3 separate regions of the Homo sapiens genome follow, and regions 1 and 3 are each linked to region 2. The links come from fine-mapping of genetic effects on gene expression. A gene starts in region 2. Each other region holds a variant in brackets. All regions are shown on one strand. Distances are from middle to middle. Region 1 overlaps RNF141 (ring finger protein 141). Region 2 holds the start of RNF141 (ring finger protein 141). Region 3 overlaps IRAG1 (inositol 1,4,5-triphosphate receptor associated 1).

Evidence for each region. PIP is the estimated chance that this variant, and not a neighbour inherited with it, causes the effect.
Region 1: its variant is fine-mapped to the expression of RNF141 in NK cells (Gilchrist 2021, PIP 0.95). The same link has a PIP of 0.9 or more in monocytes.
Region 3: its variant is fine-mapped to the expression of RNF141 in whole blood (TOPMed, PIP 0.96).

Annotation. Positions count from the first base shown.
Region 1 is chr11:10,507,089-10,517,610 of GRCh38, forward strand. It overlaps RNF141 (ring finger protein 141), which reads right to left. Exons shown (of 6, transcript NM_016422.4): 6 at 4,585-7,978. The coding sequence ends at 7,828. It overlaps AMPD3 (adenosine monophosphate deaminase 3), which reads left to right. Exons shown (of 15, transcript NM_001025389.2): 15 at 1-491. MIR4485 (microRNA 4485) reads right to left here and starts at 1,238; the gene lies at 1,182-1,238. It also overlaps the pseudogene MTRNR2L8. RefSeq lists a silencer at 2,034-2,328 and an enhancer at 3,891-4,801. The variant G/GT (reference allele first, on the strand shown) is at 6,599.
Region 2 is chr11:10,536,094-10,546,615 of GRCh38, forward strand. It overlaps RNF141 (ring finger protein 141), which reads right to left and starts at 5,094. Exons shown (of 6, transcript NM_016422.4): 1 at 5,029-5,094. IRAG1-AS1 (IRAG1 antisense RNA 1) reads left to right here and starts at 5,143. Exons shown (of 4, transcript NR_046375.1): 1 at 5,143-5,449. RefSeq lists an enhancer at 5,170-5,279.
Region 3 is chr11:10,614,968-10,625,489 of GRCh38, forward strand. It overlaps IRAG1 (inositol 1,4,5-triphosphate receptor associated 1), which reads right to left. Exons shown (of 21, transcript NM_130385.4): 10 at 8,811-8,889. Among named protein-coding and RNA genes, the nearest start is that of LYVE1, 52 kb to the left of the region's middle. RefSeq lists a silencer at 2,551-2,751 and an enhancer at 8,488-8,617. The variant C/T (reference allele first, on the strand shown) is at 6,682.

The DNA.
Region 1 (10,522 bases), 29 kb before region 2:
TGTAGTAGGTGCTCAATAAATGCATATTGAATAACTAAGTGAATTTCTTTTGGCAACTTTTTAAGGACATGTGCTCTTAGTACTTAAGAGGCTGCTCAAGGACCTTCCTATCTATTTCTGTGGTCAAATTCAGACTACAGGAGGTCTTTTTGAATCATTATAGTTAGAAGAAGAATCCAGTTTCTGCCTGTGAACTTATTTGACTTTAGATTGTCTCATCTTGTGACTTTATAATGCCTGTCCCCTCCACTGGTCAATTCAGCATATGGAAGTATAAATGCAGTCTTTTTACTAGGCAGATATATATGCTATCTTACAGCTAATTATGAAATTGAATGAAAATCCATTGTTATCTTAGGGATTAGTTTTGAAAAGCCCCCGTTTATATACATTTGCCCTAACATAGGAAGTATTGTGTAGTTTCTCATTGTCATTTTATCTGTATCAAGTATCTTTTTTTAAATTGTTAAATAAAGTCAGCTAGGACTGTGGCTCAATAGTTTAAAACTATTTAAAGATAATCATATTTAAAGCAAATGTTAAAGATTTTTACTCTTAAGATTGGGCACCATGAAAAGCTATCAATAATAATAGCTAATTTATCTTTTACTAAGACTCCGACATGAATGACATTCACTAGGAAAACTCAAAATTTTCAAACTGAAGCTCACCAGACCCAGAAGATAAATCTTCCTTTGTTATTTTCTCTAACTTCTACCCTGTTATAGTTCATGAGCAAAGCTATACATGTTCCTTTCCTTTTCCCGGGGTATTATTTTAGTCTGTCCAGCTAACACCTTGTTGATATGGACTCTAGAATAGGATTGCGCTGTTATCCCTAGGGTAACTTGTTCCGTTGGTCAAGTTATTGGATCAATTAAACGTGGTAATTCGCTTTGACTGGTGAAGTCTCGGCATGTGTTGCTCGGAGGTCGGATTGTGCTCCGAGGTCGCCCCAACCGAAATTTTTCACGCAGGTTTGATAGTTTAGGGCCTGTGGACTTGTTAAGTGTTGTTTGCGTTAATGAATTAAAGCTCCATAGGGTCTTCTCGTCTTGTTATACTATGCCCGCCTCTTCACGGGCAGGTCAATTTCACTGGTTGAAAGTAAGAGACAGCTGAACCCTCGTGGAGCCATTCATACAAGTCCCTATTTAAGGAACAAGTGATTATGCTACCTTTGCACAGTTAGGGTACCGCGGCCGTTAAACGCATGTCACTGGGCAGGCGGTGCCTCTAATACTGAGAATGCTAGAGGTGATGTTTTTGGTAAACAGGCGGGGTAAGATTTGCCGAGTTCCTTTTACTTTTTTTAACCTTTCCTTGTGGGCATGCCTGTGTTGGGTTAACAGTGGGGGTAATAATGGCTTGTTGGTTGGTTATAGATATTGGGCTGTTAATTGTCAGTTTAATATTTTGGTCTGATGTAGGCTTATGCGGAGGAGAATGTTTTCATGTTACTTATACTAACATTAGCTCTTCTATAGGGTAATAGATTGGTCCAATTGGGTGCAAGGAGTTCAGTTATGTGTTTGGGATTTTTTAGATGACAGGTGTCGAGCTTGAACGCTTTCTTAATTGGTGGCTGCTTTTAGGCCTACTGTGGGTATTAAATTTTTTACTCTCTTTACAAGGTTTTTTCCTAGTGTCCAAAGAGCTGTTCCTCTTTGGACTAACAGTTAAATTTACAGGGGGATTTGGAGGGTTCTGTGGGTAAATTTAAAGTTGAACTAAGATTCTGTCTTGGACAACCAGCTATCACCAGACTCGGTAGGTTTGTCGCCTCTACCTACGAATCTTCCCACTATTTTGCTACATAGACGGGTGTGCTCTTTTAGCTGTTCTTAGGTAGCTCGTCTGGTTTCGGGGGTCTTAGCTTTGGTTCTCTTTGCAAAGTTATTTCTAGTTAATTCATTATGCAGAAGGTACAGGGATTAGTCCTTGCTGTATTATGCTTGGTTGCAATTTTTCATCTTTCCCTTGCGGTACTATATCTATTGCGCCGATTTACAATTTCTATCGCCTATACTTTATTTGGGTAAATGATTTGGTTAAAGCTGTTCGGTAGTAAGGTGGAATGGGTTTGGGGCTAGGTTTGGCTCAGAGCGGTCAAGTTGAGTTGAAATCTCCTAAGTGTAAGTTGGGTGCTTTGTGTTAAGCTACACTCTGGTTCGTCCAAGTGCACTTTCCAGTACACTTACCATGTTACGACTTATCTCCTCTATATAAATGCGTAGGGGTTTTAGTTAAGTGTCCTTTGAAGTATACTTGAGGAGGGTGACGGGCGGTGTGTACGCGCTTCAGGGCCCTGTTCAACTAAGCACTCTACTCTTAGTTTACTGCTAAATCCACCTTCGACCCTTAAATTTCATCAGGGTTATCGTAGTTTTCTGAAGTAGAAAATGTAGCCCATTTCTTGCCACCTCATGGGCTACACCTTGACCTAACGTCTTTACGTGGGTACTTGCGCTTACTTTGCGGCCTTCGTCAGGGTTTGCTGAAGGTGGCGGTATATAGGCTGAGCAAGAGGTGGTGAGGTTGATCGGGGTTTATCGATTACAGAACAGGCTCCTCTAGAGGGATATGAAGCACCGCCAGGTCCTTTGAGTTTTAAGCTGTGGCTCGTAGTGTTCTGGCGAGCAGTTTTGTTAATTTAACTGTTGAAGTTTAGGGCTAAGCATAGTGGGGTATCTAATCCCAGTTTGGGTCTTAGTTATTCTGTGTTCAGATGCATTAAAGCCACTTTCGTAGTTTATTTTGTATCAACTGGAGTTTTTTACAACTCACATGAATTTTAGCTTTATTGAGGGGAATTGATCTAAAACACTCTTTATGCCGGTTTCTATTGACTTGGGTTAATCGTGTGACCGCGGTGGCTGGCACGAAATTGACCAACCCTGGGGTTAGTATGGCTTAGTTAAACTTTGGTTTATTGCTAAAGGTTTATCACTGCTGTCTCCCGTGGAGGTGTGGCTAGGCTAAGCGTTTTGAGCTGCGTTGCTGCGTGCTTGATACCTGTTCCTTTTGATCGTGGTGATTTAGAGGGTGACTCACTGGGGCGGGGATGCTTGCATGTGTAATCCTACTAAGAGCTAATAGAAAGGCTAGGACCAAACCTATTTGTTTATGGGGTGATATGAGCCCGTCGAAACATTTTCAGTGTATTGCTTTGGGGAAGTAAGCTACATAAACTGTATGGGGTGTCTTTGGGGTTTGGTTGGCTCGGGGTATGGGGCTAGCAGCGGTGTCCTGCAAGCTTTTCTGACATCTTTTCTATAGCACTTTGTGCTTTTATTACATTGCTATACTTAATTGGCCTTTTGGGGGACAAATCCCTACTTTCCTTTGTGTTTGCAACTGGAATAAGAGGCAATTAATTGTATACTGGCTTAGGTTTCTAAAGCAACAGTTTTTGAGGCAGTTATCCCTTCTTTATCCTTAAGGGCTCAAGTTCACTTTATGTGTTACTTCAAATTGTACCGCTGAAACCGATCGACATCATTGCTCTTTGCCTCGTGAAAACAAATCACAGCTCCTGGGTTGTGATTTTTCACGGCCTCTTGGATTAAACAAGAGCCGAAAGCACTTTTCTCTTGCTTTCTCTTTACTTCTGAGTGTTGGTGAAACAATATTCTTCATTTCCTGCGTTTGAGACATGACTGAAGGTGATATACCCAAATACTCTGCCTGAACTATGATCATTATAAAGAACAAGTGTAACTAGGGGAATACTAACCAGATAAACAGTTCCTTGGAAATTTTTGCAATTAGTAAGATAGAAGATGACAGAGAGTAAGACTATAAACAGCTGCAAGCGTGTCAAAACCTATCTCTGCAAAGGCTTTTATGTATTTTGACAGTAAAATGTGCATTTCTCCACAGTATGATGATACAGTCAATTTAACTACCAACTGCCACTCATTCTTATGTCCTTGCACTTTTCAGCACTAAGATTCTACGATGTTTCTCTAATTACATTCTTATATTTTGGAAATGATTTTACAAGGTAAACAAACTACAATAGGGTTGAGCATTTTATTTTTGCTGTCTGTTGGGGTAGGGGTCCACAACCCCTGGGCTGTGGACAGTACTGGTCTGCTGCCTGTTAGGAACCAGGCCGCACAGCAGGAGTTGAGCCGCGGGCGAGTGAGTATTATTGCCTGAGCTCCACCTCCTGTCAGATCAGCAGCGGTATTAGATTCTCAAGGAGCATGAACTCTACTGTGAACTGCGCATACGAGGGATCTAGGTTGCATGCACCTTATGAGAATCTAACTAATGCCTGATGATCTGAGGTGGAAAAATTTCATCCCGAAACTATTCCCACCCCAACCCTGGTCTGTGGAAAAATGGTCTTCCATGAATGCAGTCCCTGGTGCCAAAAAGGTTGAGGACTGCTACAGCAGGGTGAATAGACATACGAACAAATGAGTCTGTTGTCAGCTGCTTAGGTTTGTATTGTATCGTCATTGTGTGGCCCAGCATGAATGTGAGTGACCTGTTAACTTCCCTCATCTGCAAGTAGTTTTCTTATTCCCGGATAGACTAAGCTTGACTTCAGACAATAGCAGTTAAAAATGCAAATTCTTCAGACTACCTTTTAATAAACTCAACTTCCCAATGTTAAAAATCACTGAATCAAAAGATATTTTCAAGCAGCCTTTTCTCCCAGATATATATTAGATATAAGGAAATCGAGTCCAATTTGAAATGAATTTTAAAACAGCACACAAACATCACAAGCCCCCAGCGCACAATATAAAATAGTTCTCTAAGGAATATAAACATTTAGTATATTAGAATGTGAAATTACATAGGAAAATAATCTCTTCAATTAGCTAAAATCACTTGCGAAAGATTATTTATTGCACAATTTATCAGTGGGTACTAAGAATAACACAGATCCTATTATTCTCAACCTCTAAATTCAGTACATAGTAAAATTCATTTTCTCAAACTAAGGTTCTATACATAATCGGAGTAAACCCTCTGTTACTGAGTTAGGATAGGGAAAACAAATTCCTTAGAGTTCATGAAACCACTTCACAAATCCTAGAAGGCACACATTATATTTCCTATCATAGTAAGTACATTTAAGTACTTCATATTTAAAAAAGACAAAGCTGTACAGAATACAAAAAGTGTACATTTCATCCATTAAACAAATTTACAACTTTTACGATTAGTTATTACAGTAGAACTGACCTAACATTCACATCTAAATAATTATCACCCAGTTCAATAGAGCGAACAAAGAGCTGTGCTCATTTATTTATTTGATAAGGCTAATAACATTTTATATTCACAGTAGATCAGTAAGTGTCTTGGAGCTCATATTGTAAAATAAAAAGGTTTGGGCCCTATTGAGTCACTGGGCTCATTGTTAAATAACTCCTTGAAAGGTGAAGGATTCTGGGGGATAAAATCATTGGCTATCCCTGGAAAGATCCAAAACTCTGTAAGGTAACTCTGTTCACTTTTCAGAAACATTTTAAAATTAGGTAATCTGAATTAAACTCAGCAAGTCTAATCTAAAAGGACAATTTAAAATCTTAGAGCTGGAAAAGATTTCAGTGGATCATCTATCCCAAGGTTTTCAAAATATGTTCCATGGAATACTAAGAATCTATGGAGGAGATACAGGGTTCTGCAAATTTGACTTGAATTTAATTAAAAAATTTTTTTAAAAAAAACGACTCCCACTATATGTGTGTTACTCACCAAATTCAAACATGCTGGATATCACCAATGCATTAATGTTTTTATTCATTGACTTAATCACATTTATAGTATATAAAGTTTATATAATAAGGAAATTTATAATAATATGACTTTTATATAGTGGGGTATAGGGTATGTGTGTATGCACACGTGTTTAAAGGTTCTGTAAGATTTTCCTTGAAAAAGTTTTTGCTGCTGAAATAGTGTGAAAACCACAAATAAAGTCTCAGTTTCTAAAGTAAGAACACATAAACAAGAGTAAGAGACTTTCTCAAGGTCACACAACCACCAAGTGCATTGCCAGGTTGATATGATGGAACCCCTGGTACTCTGCTTGCATAAACCTCCATAGGGAGTAGTTAGCTATTTGGTACTTAGCTGTCCCATTATGAATGTCAATGGATTAGTCTTCAGTATTTTTGGGGGCGAAATCAAGCTACCCCTGGCCAGATGTTTTTCCTTGAAATTGATTTGAATTTTATTTGCTCGCCTATTAAAATCCTACTATCCAGAAATTCTGTCATCAATAAGTGGCAACTTAAATTGTGTACCCTGGTTTAGGAAAATAGTAATATTTGCAACTTATGAATGATAAGTCAGAAAAGTTACATGGAATGTTAAATTTTAAAGGAGATAGGCCCTTGTTTTATTACATGCCGAAATGTTAATGTTAGAAATTTTAGTTCATAAGCAAAAAAAATGGTTGAGGTGCAACTGAAGATCACAATTCCATTATTACTATATTGTTTCAGAATATTTTAATGGAAAGAGTATTTCAATGGAAGTACAGTGAAACAGTAGGAATGCCAAATTATCTTCTAATTTTCATAAGTATTTTATGTATATACGGTAAAAAAGCCTCACTCTATTTTCTTGT[G/GT]TTTTTTTTTTGATTAGGAGTCTCGTTCTGTCTCCCAGGCTGGAGTGCAGTGGTGTGATCTCGGCTCACTGCAACCTCCACCTCCTGGGTTCAAGCAATTCTGCCTCAGCCTCCCGAGTAGCTGAGATTACAGGCACCTGCCACCATGCCCAGCTAATTTTTGTATTTTAGTAGAGAGAGGATTTCGCCATGTTGGCCAGGCTGGTCTCAAACTCCTAACCTCAAATGATCCACCCACCTCGGCCTCCCAAAGTGCTGGGATTACAGGTGTGAACCACTGCACTGGCCTCTTGTCTCTTAATCTAAGAAATTTGAGGACTCTGAAATCTCAGAAAGATGTTTTCAAGTTAAGGAAATAAAAGCACCATAAACCAATATTAAATGACCTATAGTAATTTAGAAATATAAAATTTAGTATTTGTGATGCAGAATAATTTCCTTCTGAAACTCCAAGATGTGTGAGCATTATCAAAGCCATTTAGAACAGTTACCCAGCTGTGGGAAAGCATTTCCAGAACAGCCAAGAAAATTCCCCAGGAGAAATCCATTTGCAAAGGAAAGTCACACCCAATTTTGTAGACCTCACCCAAATTATACAGTATGGCAAAAACAAACAAACAAACCTTTAAGTACAGTAGTTCCAAAACACACTGCTAAAGTTATGAAATAATTGTGGATCATTTCAAGTAAAAATTATTAAAGGAGCAATAATTAACCACAAGGGGGCATATATATATATACTCCTTAGATTCCAGCAGAAAGACTAGTTTTAAGTAGTAACATGCACGTTGAAGTATTCTACATTTTCAGTCACTTAAACTTTCCTCTCTCAGATGGCTACAACTTTTTAATATTCGAGGTTTATTTTATATCTAAGTAAAAAGATTCCAGAATACTCCTGCCCTGCAAAACAGTAGTGTTTTAGAAGCCTCTGGAAGTGTTGCTGTTACCTTTAGCAAAGAATTCAAGAGCTATTAGTTGTAATAATACAAATTTGAACAGATAAATAATAGGAAAATATGGTCTAAAACAGTAGCAAATTTTAGTACCACAAATGGAAGACATGGGAAGTTTATTTTTAAAAGGGGGACAAATGATCAGAATAGCAAAAATAAAAGAGTGGGGAAAATGGATTTTCCTGTGTCTGTGCCAGTGCCACAACCCTACATTCTTCCCCCATGACCAAATATTTGAGCCCACAATAGCAACAGAAGACTTTCACTTCAAGGTCATGGCCTGTGGGGCTGGCCTGCCTCATCAGCCATGTTAAGAATATAGTTAGCCATATCATCTTCAGTGGGTGCATCTGATACCACCCAAGATTCATTTGCTCCAGTCATCTGTAGGCGACAAATAGGGCAATTCCTGTGTCGATCACTCCTATTAGAGAAGTCAAAACAAAACAGTTTGCTTTCTTCTTTTTTAAAAACAGGATTTTATTTAAAGTAATACATGCACATGGCTTTTAAAAAGGAAATAGCATAGAAATATATAGTGAAAAATAAATCCCTCCCTCCTATCTCAATCTTCAATTCTCTTTCCCAGGGGCAACCACAGTTACCAGTTTCTTATATATTCCTCCAGAGATAGACTAAGCTGGATTAAGCTTATGTGTACACACATGCACGCACGTGCACACACACATTTCTCCACTTGTCAATATATCTTACAGACTAGTATGTATCAGCACCTGTTAGAGCTGTTTATTCTTTTTAACATACACTGTATCGCTATGCCATAATTTGTTTAACTAGTCTCCTGCAGAAGGACATTTAGTTTTTTTTCCCATCTTTTGTTGCTACCAACAATGCAGCAATTCGCATCCCCATACCTAAACAGGTAAAGTATTCCTTTATAATAAAAATTCCTTCTGAGTCCCAAGAGGAAATTCCCTCGCATCAATGGAAGATTTGGTCAAAGTGTCAAGTATAAATGCTTATTCGTGATTATTTAAATGGAAGCCATTACTCTAGGAATAACTTCTTGGCAGTGGCAGGGGAATATGACAAGAAGAAAGGATATTATTAATTATTTTTCTAAGAAATATCTACATGACTTTCAACAATATATCTACCTGTTGCTTGCTTAAAGGTCTGAAAAAATTCCTATGGCTCATAAGCAACAGGAAGACTTATATAAAAATGGAGCATACAAAGTTAAAAGATAAACTTTACATGCACAGTAATTTTTCTGGCAGGGGAAGAACTCATATATGATCACTTAAATAAGATTATGTTTTCGAAAAGGATTTTTTTCTGGTCAAACATTATTTTGGTAATTTAAAAAATACCGTATTTGAGCCAGAGACATATTATGCAGAGAAAAATGTTTTTCTTTTCATCTCTCAGTGAAATCTGGGACCAAAGTAATTATTTGTATCAACTGCTCTTTGGCTTTTATGCAAAAATTTAGAACTCTGTTCCAAAAACTAAATGTGAAAGCTACAGCTGGCATATATTATTTAGGTTGATTTCTAGTTCTTCAGAGGTATTTTACAAGATAATTATATGTATGCTCTTCTGTGCACAAAACATCACAATTTAAAAATAGTCAACTTCTGTTTCCAACCAACAGAGGCTAGATTTATCTTCCCACCTAAAATTACTAAAACAATGGTTTCATACAATCTTTCAAATAAAGCACTGGCCATCAGACAACAAAGGACAGTGATCCCTGGGACATGGGAGTCAAAGAAGGTGAGACCTATACTTGCCTCAGCTTACAGCCTCGAGAGTTTCTAGCCCCTGATCAAGAAGCGGGAAGCTTGATGGAACATGGCAAACTCCCTGAGCTGAACACACAGAGCTGAGAATCTTGGGGGGCCAAACAGCTAGGGTTTACAGGGCAGGGTAATGGAAAGCTGCACAGAGGGAAAATTCCAGAGGTCTACGGAAGTGTCCCCGCCAGAATACTCAGCAGAGTGCTGATCAGTGTGTGCATGTGAAGACACTACCGAGGCTGAACAATCAATCAAAGGGCTTTGAGGGGATAGTCCCCTAAAGCTCACTGGGCCTGGGATACTGCCTGTTTCACCAGCCAGACTGGAAAACCTCATAACTCTTGGGGTATCAGTAGAGTTCTCTAAAGGGTCTTGCTATTAGTGGGACATAATTAGTTCTAAACTAAATACTGCTCTGGTCCTGCCTAACAAATCACAAAAGCAAGATCCAAAAGAATCAAACTGTTTCCAAGTCACTTAACTATAGTCCAGAAAAAAAGCTCAAGAATATTCATAGGAATACAAAAATATCCAATACCCAAAAAGGTAAAATTCACAAAGTCTGCCACAAAGTCTGGCATCCAGTTGAGAACTACCAGACATACAAAAAAGCAGCAGAAAAATATAATCTATAATAAAGAGAAAAATCAATCATAACCACCCAGAACTAACACAGATATTAGAATTAGCAGATAAAATGGAAAGTTATTATAGCTATATTCTATATAGTTAAAAAACTAGAGGAAAGCTCAAAGATAGTAAGAAGAGACATGAAAGATAATAAAAACCCAAATCAAACTTCTAGAAATGAAAATTATCTGAGGTTAAAAAAATACACTGGATAGAATTAATGGCAAGTTAGACATTGAAGAAAAATGGTGAATATGAAAAGAGATAGCAATAGTAACTATCCAGGATGAAACCCAGAGAAAGACTCAAAAAAGAAAGAAAAAAATAGCACCAGTGAGCTGTGAGACAACTTCAAGTGGGCTAATACATGGTAATTGGAATCACAGGAGAGGGGAGAGAAGATAGAAAAAAATCTGAAAAAATAATGGCTGAAAAATTTCCAAATTTGATGACACCGTAAATCAACAAATCCAAGAAGCTCAATAAACCCCAAGCACAAGAAACATGAAAAAACTACTCTAAGGCACATCATAATCAAAGTGCTCAAAACCAGTGAAAAGAAAACAACCTTAAAA
Region 2 (10,522 bases):
TGCTAGGTGAACAAGTACAGGTGCTGTGAAAGCCTATAAAAGGGGGACTTGACCTAGTTTTGTATCAGGGAAGAAGTCCCTGGGCAAACAACATTTTACTTGAGGTCAGAATGGTCAGAGTTAGGGATTAAAAAAAAAGTAGGGAAATGGCAAAAGGAGGACACTCCAGGCAGAGGTTATGAAAAGTGCCTGAGACAGGAAGCAGCACGGTGACTTTGAGGTAATTTTTAAAAAGGCCACAAGGACTAAAGCAGAGAGGCAAAGGGAGAGGGAAACTGGCACCAAGAGTTGGGCTGTTTAACATTTTTGTTGATGACCTGAAGACTGTATGCCTGCCCAATCTGCGGATGACCAAAACTGGAATAAATGAATATTATCTAGTGAATAATAGGATCAAGACTAAAACAGACACTTACATGCTATTTAATATGACTAAAAGTTATATCCTGAAGAGCCAACTGCACAAAAACACATATGTAAGATGTGCTCAAAAGCAGTTAAAATACAGAAGGTCTGGGTTTTTGTTTTTGTGTTTTTTAAAGAGATGGAGTCTCTTTAAACAAACAGAGTTTGTTGCCCAGTCTGGTAACAAACTCCTGGGCTCAAGCAATCCTCCCGCCTCGGCCTCCCAGGCCGAGGATTACAGGCATGAGCTGCCGCACCCGGCCAAGTCTGGGGTTTTTAATCAAAATAAGTCAACAGTATAACGGGGGCAACAAGTATGCTAAAATAATCCTAAACTCTTGCTAGAAGCAGGTATCTTGAGCAAGCAGCCTACTAGTCCATTATGCTTTGCAATGGTTAGGCCACACTGAAAAGTCTGTATTCAGCTCTAAGCAGTTGGCTTTAAAGGATACTAATAAATTAGAACATATTCATGGGCATAGAAAAAAAAAGAGGTTTATTCTAGATAGTCATAGTTTGGTAACAATGAAGCAATATAAGTTTGTTTAAATATCTGAGGAGCTGTCATGTGGAAAAACAAGATTCATTTACAGAGAATGGGATGGCCACTAAGTATAGTAAGTATAAATTAGAAAGGCAGATTTCAGTTGATGATAAGCATGTCGCACCATCCAGAAGTGGAAATGGCTGCTACATGTGAGCTCCCTCTCATTGGAAGTATGGAAGTGTTTAGGTAAAGATTAGAAGTACATCTAATAAGTGTTACAGGGATTTTTACCTGGGTGGGAAGTGGAGTAGGTGACCTTTAACCTAACATTTTATTCCCAAAATGAAACTGAACCTTCCTCTAACATTCCTGTACCAATTTAATGAAAATGTAATTAAGATTCTAGTCAACCAGGCTGAAAACTTTGAATAATATCTACATTACTTAACAAAGAAAAAAACTGAACTTTTGAAATATATAGTCTCAATATTTAATATAAATACCTATGATAATTTAACCAACGTGGTATAGGGGAGATAGAATTTCTCTCCCTCTGCTCTCTGAGGTCTCCAGCTGGGCCCAAGAATTAAACTAACCTAAGACAGATTAACAGGAGAAAAACACACAAATTTTATTTAGTAATTTTTATACATACACAGGAGCCCTCAAGAAAAATAAGGACTAAAAAAAGTAATTAAGGCCAAAAGCTTACATAGTAGATTGGACAAAGGAGAAGTAAACTGTGAAAACATGACAAGACACAAGGGTTTGGGCTGGGCCAGTTAATCACAGAAAAGTGACTAGGAAGATAAGGGTTACTTTAAGAAGGCTTCTTTGAACACATTTCTCTCAGCTTTGATTGCCCACTTCTAGTAATGATAATGTCTTCCTCCTGGCATAGAGAGGACATCTTTCACATGGCTGTTTTATCTCCAGCCTTCAGGAAGAATTAGGAGGGTCAGTGGGCACTTCTTACATCTGCTGCTTTTCAATGTGCTTTTAACTCAAAATAATCCTTATGCCAAAGTGGCGTATTTTGCTACCCTACATTACCCACCAAAACCATATTTCAAAAGAAGAGTTAGTTGCTTATTTATTGAGTTATTAATAGAAAATGATCCCCTTTGTTTCAGCATTGTTTTCATCTGCTGCCCTAACTTTGAGTAAAGTTTATAATTTGAGGCAGCATATTAACTTGTTATCTTGTAACTGTACTTGGTATCTGGGAAACTTCATCACTAACTCCTTGCATTAAAATGCAACAGTATCTAGAGACTACCTGAGAGAGCCTGCAGAAGTGGTTTTCAACCTGGTTCCAGAAAGAGGGCTTGACATTTAGTTTATTTTGAAAACCATAAAATATTGATAAATATTAACATCTATCACTATATGGGTGTGAAAATAAGATATGACTCTGTGATCTGCATACAATATAAAACCACAACACAGAGTGCATGTTCACGAAAACAATCTGTTGAGGCCATCCTCTAGTCAACCACCACAGCTTTTCAGTGTCCCTCTTTGGTGACTGCACATATTTCTATCATACTATGACATTCGTTAAGTCACTTGGCCATTTCCCTCTAGTGAGCTTCTTGAGGACAGCAGCTATGGTCTGTCTTCTGGCAGATACACAAGCACTCAATAGATGTTTACTGAATAAATGCAGTAAATACCATTGGCAGTTTTTGTTTTATTATTATTCACTTAGTATTCTTTTGACTTTTGTTAATTTGGTCAGTCATCTATTAGTACTAGGTTGGAGAGAAGCAGAAGTTAAAAATATGTATGAAAGAAAATGTAAAACTGTGAAAATCTGTCATTAAATTAATGCTTATGTAAACTGGGAAACATTTACTATTTGATTTTAACAAGATACTCCCCCCTAGGCCATGCAACAGTGGTATTGCATAGAAACATAATTTGCAAACCACTGGCACAGAATTCAACAAAAGATGAATTTCTGGTCAAGATTTCTCAAAGAACTAGCAGCTCTCATATTATTGTGCCACCTATAACACAGTCATTTTTTGCAAGATAAAAATATGCTTTCAAAAAGCATTTGAAGGATTTTCTAAATAAAGAACTGTTATTTTGAAATGCACAAGATCAAGGATTCCAAAAATGCCACATTCTCTAGTGGGTGGTACATAGTGAATCACTTATTTTTCTAACAAATGAATTGTGGAAGTTCAAATATTCCTTATAAAAATATTAAAATTACATCATGGGTAACTGGCAAAGCAAAAACGAAAAAACTGCTCAAAAACTCCTAAAAATTTAAACCATAATTCATTCATAAAATAACTAAAGCAAAATGGAAAAGGCTGAAAATGCACCAAAATGACTAAATGACAAGTACTGCACTGTAGTATTTTAAAAACCTCTCTGAAACCAGTTCTCCATCAAATTTTGTATCAACCTCACCTAAAAGGATTTAATTGAAATAAACATCAATGATTTTCACTGTCAAGTCAACTTTAACATCAGTAATAAATACCAAGTACTACTGACTGGGTCCCTAAGGATATTATTTACTTTATTACTCATTGTTTACTCAAACTGTAGATCTGTAAACAGATATCAACTTTTTTTTTTCAAGACAAGTTAATATAGATACATAGTGAAATAATTAGGCCAGAGTCACTATAGAGTCCAGAATGCCTGTTCCAGAATCAAAGATCTTGATCAGAAAAAGATACATACATATATATTAGAGAGAGAAGGAGAGAGAAACTACAAAAGGATAGAGTGCCGTACTAGGAGATTAAGAATATGGATTTCTCACAGTAACAGTGTGTTTACTAAATGCATTTCATATTGGAAAAAGCATATTAGACTTGTAAGAATTCTCTCTGGACCTCCCTTGCCTTTTTGGGAAGGAAAGCGTGTTTGTATTTAGATGGGAACCAAGAAGGATCAGGCTACACACATCGAATATAAAGTTCATTTACACCAAATGACAAATATTAATTTTTGAAACATATAGTCATATTCTTGAGAAAAAGTTCTAGAAACTGAAGTCAGGCAATGTGAAAGAAAAGGATAAAAATCCATACTATTTTTGAGCTCTGAATTCAGAAAGCATCACTTCTCAGACGGGTGACTTCGACATGGAGGTGACTAATTTAGGATCGTCGGCCGGTGGCAGCTCATGCCCCCAGACAAAATTCTGAATGGGTAGAGGTCATTTTATAGCAAGAAGAATGGGCAGAAGGGAGTGAAAACGAATAAATTCGTGCTGAAGATGTAAGAATTATAAACAATTGAAAGTGTTCCAGCAGCTTTATATATATGCCAGAGGCAAGAACTGAATTAGCTGGCACCGCTAAATAGGACAGTGTCAGAATATAAAAGGTACACTACCTTTAATAAGGGGCATAGGGATCGATTTCAATAACAATCGTAAATCCACATTTTGTAACGCCGAGACAAATAACTGAAGGAATAATTTCAAAAGCTAACACAGAAGCCTTCTGCTCCTGCTGTGTAATCACTACCTTCTTATTATTAGCAAGAAAACGTTCTTTTCTTAGCCGGGTCTCAAGGTAGCAGCTAGTTTGACAAGGAAAGACCTTTGGGAAGGGTAGCAGCCTAAGCCAATTCATAAGTGTGGGGCTGGCTAAGTAGATCGACGTGGCTATTTCTGAGCTATCGTCCCAGGCAAAAGGTTTCTTATTTGGGTGTCCAGCCCGGCGGAGACCGAGCCCGCGGGCCACCCTAGCGCTCGCTCTGGCTACGCCGCCTCAGCCCCTCCTCAAGCGCACCTGGACATTTAACCAACAGCTAAGTCCGGCGGCCGAATGACTGAGCCGGCGGCAATATTCAAACAACCGTTTTGGGATAGAGAAGGAAAAACTCTCTCCGGGTCCCTCAGAACCACCCCGAGGCGGGACAAGCCACCGCCACCCCGGGCAACTGGAACCCGCCGGGCAGAAGACGGGCGTCAATAGAATGGCCTCCCCAGCCGTCCCCACGCCCCAATCCGAGGCCCGGGGAGGGCGGCGGGGCTAGGCCTGTCTCCCCGCGGAAGCCTGGCTCGGCAGCGGAGGGCCCTCTGGGGTTTCTCTTCCCAGACCCAGAGTCCTGGAGCAGCTAGCAAGGGAAACACGAAAGGACAGCGCCGCGGAGCTCACCCCAGGTTCAAGGCATCGCGCACCCTGCGGCAGCGGCTGCGCTGCCTCAGCCCACAGCTCAGACCTGCGGGTGGCCGCGACTCAGGCCGGGACCCGGTCGCACCTCTGTGACGCAAAGCCCCGCCCCCCGCGCGTTGCCGGGAGACGGCGCCCAACCTTCCTCTGCAGCGCCCCTACCGACCCGCGCTCCGCAGCTCCTGAGGGCTTTCGAGCCCAGATGGTCATCTGAGACGAGAGGTGGCGGCGAAGGAGAGTCTCGCCTGTCACGCTCCCGGAGCAGGGGCTTCATGAGGTGGCCATGGAAACAGCCTGGCAGACTCCCATCTCTCCTGGTGCCATCTCCGGAGCGGAAAGTGGAGCGCCCCGCTGGCGACCAAGGCCGCACTGAGAGCCCTGGTTTGGTCAACAGTTGGGCTCCAAGGTACCACTTCCCAGACCTCCAGCCTCCCCACTGATGATAGATACACAAAGGTCATCTTGTTTCTTTATGAGGCAATGGATTGTGTTCACCTAGCCGAGTTGTTAAGCATAAGAGAATGTATGAAAAGTAATTACAAGGTTCAAAATCCTGAGCTTTGATAAATGATAGATATGATGATGAGCACATGTTAGTGATATTACTGCTCTGCGGGACGTCTGAATCAGTAATTGCTGTCTTTTAAGCATCTGTTGTGTGCCAAATACTGCACTAGGCACTTTACGGGCATTGCTCTTGTTTAAGTCGTCTGGTCAAAGTTGCCTAGACAATAAACAGCAGAGCAAGGATTTTAACCCAGGTACAGCTGACACTGCTGCCTCTATGCTTAGCAGTTAAACTGGTTTTTATGTTTCTTGTTTGTACACCCCTCCTTCACCAGTCACTTGTAGATTCACCTTGTGAAGAGCTAATTCTTCCCTCTAATAATAATACTCTTTGACCATTTACTATATGTCAAACCGTATTTTAAGGACTTTAAAGGTATTAATTCGTTTAATCTTCACAGCAATCCTGTGAGTAGGTATTATTAATACCTTCACTAAGACACAGGCTTAGAAAAGTCGATTAACTTTTCCAAGGTCAAACAACCATTAAGGAGCAGAGCCAGATTCAAACCCAAGCAGACAGAACCCTGAACCTGTGTTTTTAATTCCTGTTTTAAACTGCCTCGGTAGTACGGTAAGACTTCATTAGCGCTAGGTCCATGCCTGTTTGTGCACCATTATTTCCCTGACAGCCAGCATGGTACTTGTTCAATATTTGAACATTTGATGAATATTTGAACACTGGAAAAGGAAAAAGCTTAAAAATGAAGTATAAATAATGATTTAATAAATTCCAAAAGATATCAAATTCAACAAGATTCCATAGTTCAGCCTAATCCGGGCCTGGGAGTTAGAAATATTACTCTGTAAAAATTGCCTTCAATTAAACATTGTATTGGAAGTTCTGGTCAATGAAATAAAAAAAGACAAATATATAAAAGGCATCCAAGTTGGAAAGGAAGTTGTAGCACTGCATTTATTTGCATAAGAAAATTGTGGAATACTACAAAAAAGCTGCTAGAACTCATAAGTGAGTTTACAAAAGTTGCAAGATACAAAATCAAATATACAAAAATCAGTTGTATTTCTATATACTAGCAATGAACAATTAGAAATGGAAAATTTTTAAATATCTCTTATCAGCAAAAAAAAAAAAAAAAAAAAAAGCAGCAAATTTGGGACAAATTTGACCAAAGATGAGAAAGACATGTATACTGAAAACTATAAAATATTATGGAATAGCAAAGACATGGAATCAACCCAGGTGCTTATCAATAGTGGATTGGATAAAGAAAGTGTGGTACATATACGCCATGGAATACTATACAACCACAAAAAGGACTAGATCATATCTTTTGCAGCAACATGAATACAGCTGGAGGCCATTGTCCTAAGCAAAATAATGCAGAAACAGGAAACCAAATACCGCATGTTCTCACTTATAAGTAGGAGCTAAACGTTGAGTACACAGACACAAAGTTGGGAACAATAAACACTGGGGATTCCAAAAGGGTAGAAAAAACTACTATTGGGTACTATGTTCACCACTTGGGTGACCTGGATCATTAGAAGCCTAAACCTCAGCATTGTTCGATATACCCATGTAACAAAACTACACGTGTACCCCCTGAATCTAAAATAAAATAAAAAACATTGTTAAGAGAAATTAAAGAAGACCTAAATAAATAGAGATACATTATGTTCATGAATCAGAAGACTGAGCATTTTTAAGATATCACTTCTGCCTAAATTGACCTACAGATTTAAGGAAATTCCAATAAAAATTCTAGCAGATTTCTTTTTGATGGAAATGACCAAACTAATTCTAAAATTTATATGGAGATGCAAAGGACCTAGGATAGTCAAGACTTTCATCAAAAAAAACAAAGTTTTGGGACTTACACTACCTGATCTCAAGACATTATAATAAGAGCTACTCAACACAGTATAGTATAGGTATGAAAATAGATAGAGTAATGGAACAGTATATAGAACCCAGAGATGTATCTATACATATGTCATCAATTGATTTTCGACAAATATGCCAAGGCAATTCAGTGGGGGAAAAGATAATCTTTTCAACAAATAAACCTGAAAAAATTGAATAGCATATGCCAAAAAACTCTTAATATCTTGCTCCTTTCCTCATACTGTCACAGGATCCTTGGAGTGTTGCTCTGCCAGCCAGAAACCTCTGTGGCCGGTGGCTCCTTTGCCCGAGTTTTGCTCAGGCCCACTGGGCTCATTCTGCCCATTTGGCCTTGCAGGCTGCACTCGGCTCATGCCACTGGCCCAGATCCCATGCCTGCCAAGGACGAGCCAGGCGCAAAGTGGTGAGGGGTGCGTGAGCAAGTGAGCGCGAGGTCTGGCCGCTGTGCACAGCTAGGCACGCCAGCTGTGGCGGGGCGGGTGGCTCCAGGTGCTGGCATGGGCGCTGGCTCCTGCAAAGCTGTGGCTGGACCAGGAGTACCACAAGCGGCTTCCACTGCTGGCACTAGGGAATGTGGTGGCACCTGGAAGCTTTGAGATGCCAGGAAATGCAGAGCCCCCAAGAGGGTGTTACAGTCCTGGCTCAGGGAGCTCTTAGGTCTGGGCTTCTCGAAGTGTCAAAGCTCTTCTCTCCTTCTCTCTTCTGTCCTTCTCATCGCTTGCAACATGGGGAGTGAGGGGGTGTTTCAGCCCTGTTTGTGTTACAGTTCTTTCAGTCCTGCCATTTGGCAGGTCCCAAGTTGTTGTCCCACATCCAGGAATAATGAGGTATGCAGACAATTGGAGGGTGAGTAGGGTGAAGAGGTGCTTTATTGAGTGACAGTATAGCTCTCAGGAGACTCTAAGTGGGTAGCTCCTTTCTGCAGGCAGGTTGTCCGGTTGTCTGCCCAGCTCTCAGCTGAGAGGAGACCCACAGTGGGTGGCTCCTTTCTGCAGGCAGGTCGTCAGGATGTCTGCTGAGCCCTCAGCAGAGAGGAGATCTGGAGTGGGTAGCTCCTACACGCAGGCAGGTTGTCCCCATGTTTCTTGAGTCTGGCTGAGCCTAGGATATTTATGGGCTCAAGAGGGAGGAAGTGCATGCTGATTGGTCCATGGGCAGTAGAAAAAGTGCCATAAGTTCTCACTCCAGTCTGAGGACCTGGCAGCCCAGCCCCCAGGCTTCAGACTCTCAGTTGCCTAAAGGTAGGGTTTCACTGAGGACCCACCCCTTTTTGCCCAGGAGCCAGTCTGCCTCATGCCACTGTCCATGGCACCAAGGCTGTTTGTGCCAGCGGGAGCCTGCAGGCCCACACTGAGCTGCCCTCAGCGCCCCCTCAGCTTCCCCTCCCATGCTCATCAGTGTCCAAAGTCCAGAGGGGGCTGAGGTGGCAGGGGGCTGGCATGTCAGTGTTGCCCCAAGCATGCACACACCTGCCAGATTGTGACAGCGTCTGGGCTTGGCCACAACTTTGCTCTGCCCCAGAAGCAGGGAGAGGCCAGACAGCAGGAGCAGGCACTTTCAAGCCTGTGGGGGCAAGGGGCTTCCTGGGCCCCTGAGAGCACAAGGATGCCCAGGTCCACAGCTGTGGTTGGGCAGCTGCAGCTGTGCCCAGGAGGGTGGGGCTCCCACCCCACCAACTCAGAAGCAGGTGGGGCTCCAGCCTGTTCCTGTTTTCATGGTTCTGTGGAGTGTGCAGCCCTGGCCAGGCCTCCCTCACTGCAGCTTGCATCTTTGCAGCAGCTGCTCCAGACGGGCTGCCACTGCCATCAATACTATATGTAAAAATTAACTAAAAATGGATCATACATCTAAATGTAAGAGCTAAAATCACAAAACTTCTAGAAGATATCTTAGTGACCTTGGATTTCTCAAAGACTTCTTAAAGATGGCACAAAAAGCACAAACTATAAATGAAAAAAAAAAAAAAGGATGAATTGTACTTCATCAAAATTAAATACTTCTGCTTTTTAAAAGACTCTGTTAAGAAAATAAAAAGGTAAGCCACAAACTTGGAGAAAGTATTTGCGAAACATATATTTGGCAAAAGACTTCTAACTAGAATACATAAATAACTCTTACAACCCAATAAGAAGACAACCCAACTTTTTAAAATGGGCAAAATATTTGAACAGACATTTCACCAAAGATTTATAAATGACAAAATAAGTGCATGAATTAATACCATTAATCATTAGGGAAATGCAAATCAGGAAAATAATAAGGTTTCACTGTGCACTGTAGCTACTAGAATGGCTAAAATTTGAAAGACAGATCATATCACATGTTGACAAGGATGTGGAACAACAGAAATTCTTGTATACTGCATGTTGGAAATGTAAAATAATACAACAATTTGGAAAAGAGTTTGGCTATTTCTTAAAAAGCTAAATATACACCTACCACATGATCTAACCATTTTACTCCTAGGTATTTACCCAAGAGCAATGAAGGCATATGCCTACACAGAGGCTTATACATGAATATACATAGCTTTAACTGTAATAGGCCCAAACTGGAAACAACCAAATGTCCATGAGTAGGTGAATGGAAAATAAATTGTGGCATATCCACAAAATGGAATATTACTAAGCAATAAGAAGGAATGGTTGATTGGTATACCTCAACAACATGGATGAGTCTCAAAATAACTATTTTGAGTGAAAGAAGCCAGATCCTCCCCCGCAATAAAAGAGTACCTGTGGTGTGACGCCATTCATATACAATTCTAGGCAATCCAAACTAATGTATAGTGACAAAATGCAGATCAGTGGTTGCCTGGGAATGCGGGAGCAGTGTTGTGGAGATGGGTGGGAGGGTAGTACCACAAAGGAGTGGGAGGAAACTTTTTGGAGTGATGGATATGTTCATCTTCTTGATTTTAAATGATGGTTTCACAGATGCATATGTTGAAACTTCTCAACTCGTACATTTTAATCATGCACAGTTTATTGTATGCCAATTATACCTCAATAAACTTGTTTAAAAAAGACATAGCTAGTTGAA
Region 3 (10,522 bases), 79 kb after region 2:
CAAAAGAAACTACCATCAGAGTGAACAGGCAACCTACAGAACAGGAGAAAATTTTTGCAATCTACTCATCTGACAAAGGGCTAATATCCAGAATCTACAAAGAACTCAAACAAATTTACAGGAAAAAAACAACCCCATCAAAAAGTGGGCAAAGGATATGAACAGACACTTCTCAAAAGAAGACATTTATGCAGCCAACAGACACATGGAAAAATGCTCATTATCACTGGCCATCAGAGAAATGCAAATCAAAACCACAATGAGATACCATCTCACCCCAGTTAGAATGGCGATCATTAAAAAGTCAGGAAACAACAGGTGCTGGAGAGGATATGGAGAAATAGGAACACTTTTACACTGTTGGTGGGACTATGAACTGGTTCAACCATTGTGGAAGACAGTGTGGCGATTCCTCAAGGATCTAGAAGTAGAAATACCATTTGACCCAGCCATCCCATTACTGGATATATACCCAAAGGATTATAAATCATGCTGTTATAAAGACACATGCACACGTATGTTTATTGCAGCACTATTCACAATAGCAAAGACTTGGAACCAACCCAAATGTCCATCAATGATAGACTGGATTAAGAAAATGTGGCACATATACACCATGGAATACTATGCACCCATAAAAAAGGATGAGTTCATGTCCTTTGTAGGGACATGGATGAAGCTGGAAACCATCATTCTCAGCAAACTATCGCAGGGACAAAAAACCAAACACCGCATGTTCTCACTCATAGGCGGGAATTGAACAATGAGAACACTTGGACACAGGAAGGGGAACATCACACACCGGGGCCTGTGGTGGGGTCCGGGGGATGGGGGAGGGATAGCATTAGCAGATATACCTAATGTAAATGACGAGTTAATGGGTGCAGCACACCAACATGGCACATGTATACATATGTAACAAACTTGCACGTTGTGCACATGTACCTTAGAACTTAAAGTATAATAATAAAAAAAAGTATATTACTAAGTGAAAAAAGCAAGGTTTGGAACACCTTGTATAATATACTACGATTTATGTTTAAAAAATCCACTTTTGGCTGGGCGCGGTGGCTCTCGCCTGTAATCTCAGCCCTTTGGGAGGCCGAGGCGGGCGGATCACGAGGTCAGGACATCGAGACCATCCTGGCTAACGTGGTGAAACCCTAGCTCTACTAAAAATACAAAAAATTAGCCCGGCGTGGTGGCGAGCGCCTGTAGTCCCGGCCGAGGAAGGAGAGCGGCGTGAATCCGGGAGGTGGAGCTTGCAGTGAGCTGAGATGGCACCACTGCACTCCAGCCTGGGTGACAGTGAGACTCCATCTCAAAAAAAAAAAAAAAGAAAAATCCACTTTTACATATATGTCTATATTTAGAAATGCTTGGAATATATCTAGAAGTTACACTAAAACATAGTGACAGTGGTTGCCTCTGCTACTGGGGGACAGAGATGTAATGAGACTTACTTTTTCCTATGTCTCATTTTGTACTTTTTGAATTTTGTACTATGGACATGATTATTTATAAAAATTGAATTAAAACTCATACCAAAGCAAAAACAAAAAACAAAAAACAAAAAACAAAAAACTACCTCAGTAACTCCAAACCCTTTATGCATTTCATAATACATTTTTTATACTTTTAGAAACCAATTTCTCTTCTTTGGAGGAAGCAGTTACCAAAATTCAGCAAGTCTTATAGTTTCACTTCAAGTTCAATTAAATTCTAATAGTTTTAATTTCAAACAAGTATATCTAGTATAATCTCCCTCTTTTTCCCTTCCTCCTTCTGTATTAGTGGGGAAGGAGGTGTTTAGTGTAAGCTATTTTTACTTTCTTCCTTGTATTTTTCACTATTGGTTGAATTTTTAGATATGAACATAAGCCACTTTCAACAAAAAGTAATAAATTTATTTTCAAATATATCTCCCAGGACTAGCTCATTCCAATGAAAATATTTGTTTCTGACCATGTCAGGGACTTGGAAAAATTACTTTTGGAGCTCTGAAAGATGCTCTGAGTCCCAGGATGGTTCCTAAAAGTCAAAGCTGCTAGTTGGGGATAAACTTTTTTTTACCTCTTTCTTCTCAGGGAGGCCTCTTTCCTGCCCAAGACCTGAGGCTCTGAGTCTAGACTGGGGGTTTTGGAAGGACTGTCCATTCGATGTACTTCTCTGCCTCAGCCTACGTGTCCCTCAAAATCCAGGTCCAGATAGCCAACTACCTTCTAGACGTTGCCACCTGGTTAAGGAGAATAAAAATCATTTCAAGAGCCACCATTTACTGAACATCAACTATGCAGTAGATACACTTTGTCATTTCTTACAATAGTACTGCAAATAAAAAATAGCTTAAACACCTCCTTCCCCACAAATACAGAAGGAGCAAGGGAAAAAGAGGGAGATTATACTAGATATACTTTTTTGAAATTAAAAGTATTAGAGTTTAATTGAACTTGAAGTGAAGTGAAACTGTAGGACCTGCTGAATTTTGGTAATTGCTTCCTCCAAAGAAGAGAAATTGGTTTCTGAAAGTACAAAGAATGTATTATGAAATGCATTTTCTGGAGAAACTGAAGCTCAGCTGAGTTAAAGTGATTTACTAGGGTCCAGCTTATCAGCAGTACAGCCAGAATGCAAAACCAGGTTTGTCTGTTGCATTCAAGCTGCTTTCCGTGGGCATTTGACATGTCCAAACTCAAATTCACTGTCTTCCTTCTCAAGCAAACTCCTCCTCCTGTCTCACAATTCATCACCCTCACAACCATGCAGACAGGTGCCTGGTGGTATTCCTGGTCTGCCTCTCAACTCCATCTCCTCATCAAGTCCTGACAAGCTGATCTCCAATAGCTGTCAAACTATCCTGTCCACATTTACTACCACCTCATTACCTCTCACCAGGCTATTTCCCTATCCTTTTACCTGGTGTCTCCCTGTCTCTAGCCTCTGCTGTTTCAGGCCAGCTCTCACAATCTGTCCAGAAGAATTATTCTAAAATATAGATTTGATCCTGATGCTTCCTTACCTGCAGGCTTCTCTTTCCAAAGTGTCCTAAATGAAATTCAAACTCATTAATTGGCCTTCAAAGCCTTCAATTTCCTTGGTCTCAGCCCACTGTTCCCACCTTGTTGCCCATCTCTCTGGGACGTGTAGCTCACACTTAGTTCACATGACATTCCTTCTGTTCCTGAAGTATGCCAAGCACTAGAAGATGCCTACATGCTTTTGCTTCTGCTGTCCCCCTGCTTGGGATGACTTTCTCTTCCCCAGCTCAAGGTGGCTCCTCCTGAAAACCTTCCCTGACTCAACCCCACTGAGCTAGCTGCTTCTTCCTCTTTGTTCCCAGGTACTTTATGGCCTGTTAAAGTTTTATCACAATTTATCGTAGTGACTTTGTCTATTCTTATGTTTCCTCTCCTAGACAGTGAGCTTATTCGTTCATACATTTGTTTAATGTTTATTGAGTGTTTACTATGTCCCTGGCAATGAGCTGGGAGCTAAGGATACAATGCTAAGCAAAACTGACATGCCACATCCTCTGGAGCTCATTATTCAGGGGAACAGAGATTAATCAGAGAAACATCCAAACAATTTCACACTGAGAGATTTTACAAAGGAGAAGGGATCCGAAGGTACCAGCAAACCCTTCCCAAGAAAAGTGACATGAGCAGATATCTAAAGATTGAGTTGGGAGTTCATTAGGCAAAGAGGGAGAGAGGAAGAACATTCCATGCAGAAGACAGAATGTGCCATGCGTAAGAAGAGGAAAGAATGAGCTGCCGAAGGCAGGCCAAAATATTGTGAGTGAGAGTGAGTGTGGCCCTAGAATATGCTGGGGAAGTGGGTGGGGTTAACTATTCAGGGCCTTGTAGGTTCTACTGAGGATTCAAGTGCTCTTCCTAAGAGCAGAATGAAGCCTCTGAAGATGCTGAAACAGATTTGCCTTCTAGAGATCCCTGCGGCTGCTGTGTTGGCCATGGTGTGAGCTGGGTTGGGGGTTGGGAGTGCAGGGAGAGGGGACCAGGTTGCAGGCTGTTGAGTTAGCCAAGGGGACTGATAATGGTAGCTGGGACAAGGCCTTCTCCCTGATGGTGGGGCCTGAACCCTTTTCACTTAATGCATCCCCAGCACACAGCCTAAGAACTGGCCCACAGTCAGTCTCACATATTTGGCTTGAAATAACCTGCAACTGATCAAAGATCAAAACAGCATACAATATAGTTCCTGAGAAGGGAACTGATTGGGTTGTTGGAAAGACTAGATGCAGCACAGAAATGAGCCTCCCAGTCCTCACAAACTGAAGGAGAGCCAAAATTCTTCAGACTCCAGAATGTTCTGATAAGTATCTTTTCCCATTTCTCAAAGGAACAGCCAACAACCATCATAAGAGACTGGATTTTTCCCCATGAGTTCATATGCAGGGCTGTATTTAGTGCCTATAAATACAATCTGAGCCAGCTCTCATAAAATGCTCCCAAAGCCTTTTATCCTGGGTATGGGAGGGGACGGGGCTCTTTGATGGGGCTTTCAGAATATAAGAAAAGAAAGTCACAAGTCTGCAAGTATTCATTAAACACGGAGGGTTGCCCACCACATCTCTAGCACTGTGGAGCACAGTGTACAAGAATATCCCATTTGGTTGGCAAGATAGAGTTCTACAACCTAAATGACAGAAATGAAAATGTATGCCAGGTTCCTGCTGGAATAAAGACCAGTATCACATGCAAACATTACAGCAGCTTAGTGAAGTAGGTACTGTTATTAACCTCCTTTAAAAGATGAACAAACTGAAGCGTGGAGAGAATTAGAACCTTGACCAAGGCTATGCAGCTGGTAAGTGATGAAGTCTGAGCTCTTAAGCATCCAGACCCTAGAACTGAGAGAAAATGAGAGGGAGTGTATATTGTTGGACACTGACCATGGTTAATTTTATTTTTAAAATTTGGTGCTTATAGGAGTCACATTCATTTGCCTGATAATTTTACTTCTAAGATCCATCTTATGCCCTATTAATATTGGATAATAAAGTTTTGCTGTAGGTAGTGGATGTCTAAATTGGTATAATTTTGTAAGCTAATCTGGCAGTGTGCACATATACATTTAAAAGTAAATACTTTTAACCAATCAATTGCAAGTCTAGAATAGTAGCCCATGGAAAAAACAGATTTCTATAAAGATCTATGTAAGATAGTATTCATTATAACAGTGTTTTTAATAGAGAAAAAAAGTGGAAATATTATTACAACTGGGGAGAAGTAGTATTTTTATAATGATTGAAATAATAGAAGACTTCTCAAAGGGAAAGATAGGCAAACATGATTATGTAAAATCTTTACAATTCCTCTAAAATAACACAAAACGTATTAAAAAGCAAAAAAAAGATTGAATGAAAATATATTAAAATACAGCCCCCCCCAAAAGAAAGAAAGCCAATTAAGGGCTAATATCTATAATGTATCAAGTTTACATATATTACCAACAAAAACCAAACAAATCAACGAAAAACCCCAGACCTAAATGGGTACACGGGCAAAGATGTAAGAAGTTAAGTCACCCAGTAAGAAAACAAAGTGACTATTTTAACATTTTAAGTTTGAGCTTCCTAGCAAATTAATTGAAATAATAATGAAATTTCACACTAATAATAATAAACTTAAAACAATGACAATTATTGATTATTCTTACTATATTCTGAATAATAAGGAGCAGAAGCAAACACCAGCACGGGTAATGCGTAAGAGAAAGATGTCCATTCAGTCTTTGTCAGTAGCGTTATTCATTGTAAGTAATTTGGGAAATGCAAATGTTTCTACTCTTTAACCTTGTGATTCTCAAGTCTGAACACTTATCTCAAGGGAATGATTTAAAGGAAGAAAAAAGAACAACTAACGGTCCATAATTGTTTATACTAGCATTGTTAATCCTAGTTCAAAGAACAATAGATAGGTCAATACAAGAGGAACTATGCACCCATTAAATCATAACTGAGGAGAAATTGCTGAGTATAAAATAACAAGTAAAAAAAAGAAGCTGTATCTATTCATCAAATCAACTGAAAACATTATAAATATGGGCAAATATTGCAAAGAAGAAAAATTGTTAGTTTTTCAGAATTGATGGGGTTGTGGGTGAAATTTTAAAGTGTTTTTTCCAGTGTTTTAAATATGCTTTAGTAAATTTAAAATTATAATTAGAGAAGTATATGCTGCATTTTCAAAAGATCTCTTTAAAGATGGTTATTTAAAATATTTTGCCCTTGGGAAAAAACACTGTTTGAAATTTTACTTCTGGGAACCTTCTTATTAATGCTGAATAAATAGGTAGGTGTAAGTTACTACAGTTCAGACCAGGGGCTTCCACCATTGTTAGTGACATCCTGGACACATTCACCCAAGAATCCATAGGGCTCTTATGCTGAGACTGGCCCCCAGCAGCTTGAAGCGGGGCAAGGATTTTCAAATGGTGCTCTGTGAAGCCTGGGTCCCTGGAGGTACCTTGGGCCCACAGTCTCAGAAGATGAAGGATCCAAGCCCTTCTATCCCCTTCAACCAGAGCAGCCCCATTTGCATCTCCCCAACACGCTGGCCTCCTACAGATCAGCTTGTCTGAAATGTTGTGCAGCTTAAAAAAAGTTTTAAAACTGTTCATGAGATGGCCAAACCATGAGATTTGGAGTCAGGAGATCCT[C/T]GGGCCTCAGTTTCCTCAACTATAAGAGCAAGAATCCCTGCCCCTCTTAGCTGACTGGGAAGATTACATAAAATCAGAGGTAACAAAATGGTTTATACTGTGGAAAATGCTATGGGAAGTTTATTAATTAAGATTGAATTAAAAGGACTAGGTGACACGGATGAACCTTGAAGATGTTTTACTAATTGAAATGAGCTCGACACAAAAGGACAGATACTGTATGATTCCATTTCTAGGAGGGATCTAGAAGAGTCAAATACATAGAGACAGAAAGTAGAAGGTGATCACCAGGGGCTGGGGAGGGAGGGAATAAAGAGTTATTGTTTTAATGAGTATGGCATTTCAGTTTGCAATGATGAAAACGTTCTAGAAATGGATAGTGGTGATGGCTTCATAATATGAATGTACTTACTGCCACTGAACTGTATACTTAAAAATGGCTAAAATGGCAAGTTGAATGTTATATATATTTACAATAAAAAATAGTCCCCCACCCCCTCTGAAAAAGGGAGTACTATATAGAGTAAAATACAAAAGAAAGTCAAGAAAGTAGAAGATTGCAGAGCTGGTGGGACTAACCCACTGCTTTAAGGAACAGGTACCATATGACTCAGAGAGGAGGGAGATAGCCCAGCAGGAGGGAGATGCCGCGGGGACAGAGGCACAGAGGCTAGAGGGTGAGTGGCCACAGAGAAGAGGCTCTGGGAAGAGGGAAGAGCCAGGAGCCTGGCCTGTTGGAAACACTCATCTCTCTCCACTCACCCATGCCTCTTTGCCCACCTCATGGCACTATGGTTACAGTTACAAATTATTTTCATGTACCTATCTCAATGCTCCTGCCACATCTTTTTAAAAATGTTTCTTTTGAGACAGGATCTCACTCTGTACCCCAGAGCGAGACCCTAGAGTACAGTGGCACGATCACAGTTCACTGCAGCCTTGACCTCCCAGGCTCAAGCGATCCTCCCACCTCAGCCTCCCGGGTAGCTGGGACTACAGGTGTGTGTCACCATGCCCAGGTAATTTTTGTATTTTTTGTAGAGATGGGGCTTCGTCATGCTGCCCAGACTGGTCTCAAAGTCCTCAGCTCAAGCAAGCCACCTCCCTCCCAAAGTGCTGGGATTACAGGTTCACCTAGCCCCCTGCCACATCTCATACAATTTCATTCGTTCATTCAACAAATACCTATGCAGGCCCTAGTAGTGCCAGGCATTGTTGTAAGCAGTGGACACACACACACACACACACACACACTCCTGCCCTTGGGGGCTTCTTCTCTAGGGATAATAGCTGACACCTAGATAACACCTGTCATGTACCAGGTATTGTTTTAGGTACTTTATAGATATTAGCTGCTTTAATCTCCATAATCACCTAAGAAGGCAGGTACTGTTCTTAGCCTGGTTTTACATGCCCAGGGAGGTTGAATAGCTTGCCCAGGTCACCTGAGTGGTAGCAGGGCTTACAGTTCCAACTCGTGGTGGGGCTCGACATACTCATGCAGGAGAATGGGGCCGAGGAAGGGTGTTGGGGGCACTGGGAGCAGGGCTGGACTTGCCCAGCTAGATCTAGAGGGGTCAGAACCCTACTGAGAACATCGGCAGAGGTGAGTGCAGAGAGGGAGGCAGTGCGGGGGCTGAAGCCTCATTTTCAGAACCATTTTCCCCGCCATGGTTCTGGCAGAAGGTGGACAGGGAACCAGAGGCTTGGAGGAAGGGGCCTGCAGCTACCCAGCAGGGCAGGGCTGGGGTATGGACTTTGTGGTGACAGCAGATTAGTAAGCAAGAGATGGCCGTGATGCCTTGAAAAGAGGAACTCTTCAGTTTGGGCAGCTTCCTGGGTGTACGAGGAAAAGGAAGTGTCAAAAGTTCAGGCCTGAGGCACCCTTCCAGGCCCACTAGATGCCAGCATGGCTTAGGGAGGGCTGACAGCGAGGCCTGGGGGCTGGTTGGAAGGAGGCAGGTTTGGAGGTGCTGAGCGGGCAGAAGACACAATCGGATTCATTCATTCACCAGCAAATGTTTCCTGAGGAAGACACAGGAAGTCTTGTGTTTACACATTCACCTTCCTTGATCTGGCACAGACAAATCAGCACTCGCTGAGACAGCATCTGCCCCAACCCCACCTACCTTTTTCCTGCTCAGCTGCTTCACTAAGGTCTGGAAGCTTGAGCCCCACTAAGTTCTGATTTCTCATCAGGATGTGCTCCTTTGTGGTAAAAGAAAGAGATAACAATTTCAGATGATGACACTGGGCTGGGCTGTTCTCTTGGCTCTGTCTATGGTTCTGCGACCACTATCTTAGGTGGGAAAGCGGGGCAGCCTGAGAGGTGGGTGGGCAGGCATGGCATGGTGAGGCCTGAGAAGCACCAGGAAATAGTTCCTCTCCCAGTCCGTGAAGGTGCCTGAAACGCCACTGTCAGCACCACTTTCCATGGGTCAGGGACTACCCTTGGCATGGTCTTTTTAAACAAGTCTGTGGGCTTCAGGGTAAATGAACTGCTTGGCCTCACTGTGGCTGAGGTTTGCAAAGGACACACAGGGGCAGAACTAAGGGCTCTGGGACAGGAGGGTCCCCTGGGTGTGTATGGCGCTGCTCCTGGAAACAGCTTTGGCGATCTCATGGCTGGCTGGATCTTCCTGCCCTGTCATTCCGGGCAGTGACTGCTCACTTCCAGGAGCTGCGATTGCCCCACACACTCAGGTCATCAATGGCCTTTTATGGCACCTCTTGAGTTTTTAAACTCTCCAGAAAAGTGAGGCCTGAGAATTGCTGGCTTAGGGCCTCAGCTGGCAGAGCCCGGGGAGAGATGGGATGTGGCCCAAGTGGGCTCACACCTGCTCTAAGCCAATTAGCACCAGACCAAGGACCTGAGTGGAGGCACCTGGCAGAGCTCCTTGCCCCTGTGACTTATGGATCTTCAGTCTGCTGTGTGGCAGAGGGCACTTGGGAATGGTTTGTCCCCCGAGAAGGGAGGAAAGGAAGGGGCCAGCAGAGGGTGCTCATGATCCAAGTGGAAGTCATGGTCAAGGACCCTTTACCCATTTGGTTAGCAAGCCAGAGGCCCACAGCCCATCAGCTTCAGCACACTGGAGTCGGGTAGGGGCTGGGCACTCAGGTGCCAGGGTAGTGGTTAGTGACATGGGGCCTCCAGGTTCCCTGTAACTTCTCTGGGTGGGCGAAATCTGCAGGAGTGTAGGGAGTGAGGAGGCTCTGATAACCAGAGGCCCATGAAGGCAAATCCCTGGCTATCGGCCCCTTGGCTCCAACTTCCGCTAGAGATCCGGGACTGTGGCAACTCCTCTGGGCCCTGTGCTGTTTGATCCGCTAGTTAGTTGGGTCTTTCTGACTAGGAGGAGTTTTGTGTGTAAAATGTTAACATCAGCAGCCACGCCCCAGCTCCCCTGTGCCTCCAGTTCAGAGCATCATGAAGGTATCTGAATAGGATAGTGGCCAGCATTGGAATGTGTCCCTGCCAGCACACAAATCCCCTCAATTGTGCTTGAGTGCTATCGGGCACCTTCTTTTCTTCCCTGCCCCACATTTCCCTCTGTAGAGGAGCCAGGAGAAGCCTCCTGCTCTGAGGGTGCTGGGCCTCACTCTGTGGAATCCAGGTGCCTTGGTTTATATTCCAAGTGGGCCTTCTGGAGGAGACAGGACTGGTCAGAATTGCTTTGTCCTGTTATCTGGTCTCTATCTCTGGATGCCCCCAATCATACCCTGCATAGGGTGGCAACCCCACAGGAGACCGCTGTGCCTGGTTTGATGGCCAACAGAAGCTGAGGGGACACCATGGGCACTGGAAGAAACTCACCATGGGCGGAGCAGCCTTCACACTTGC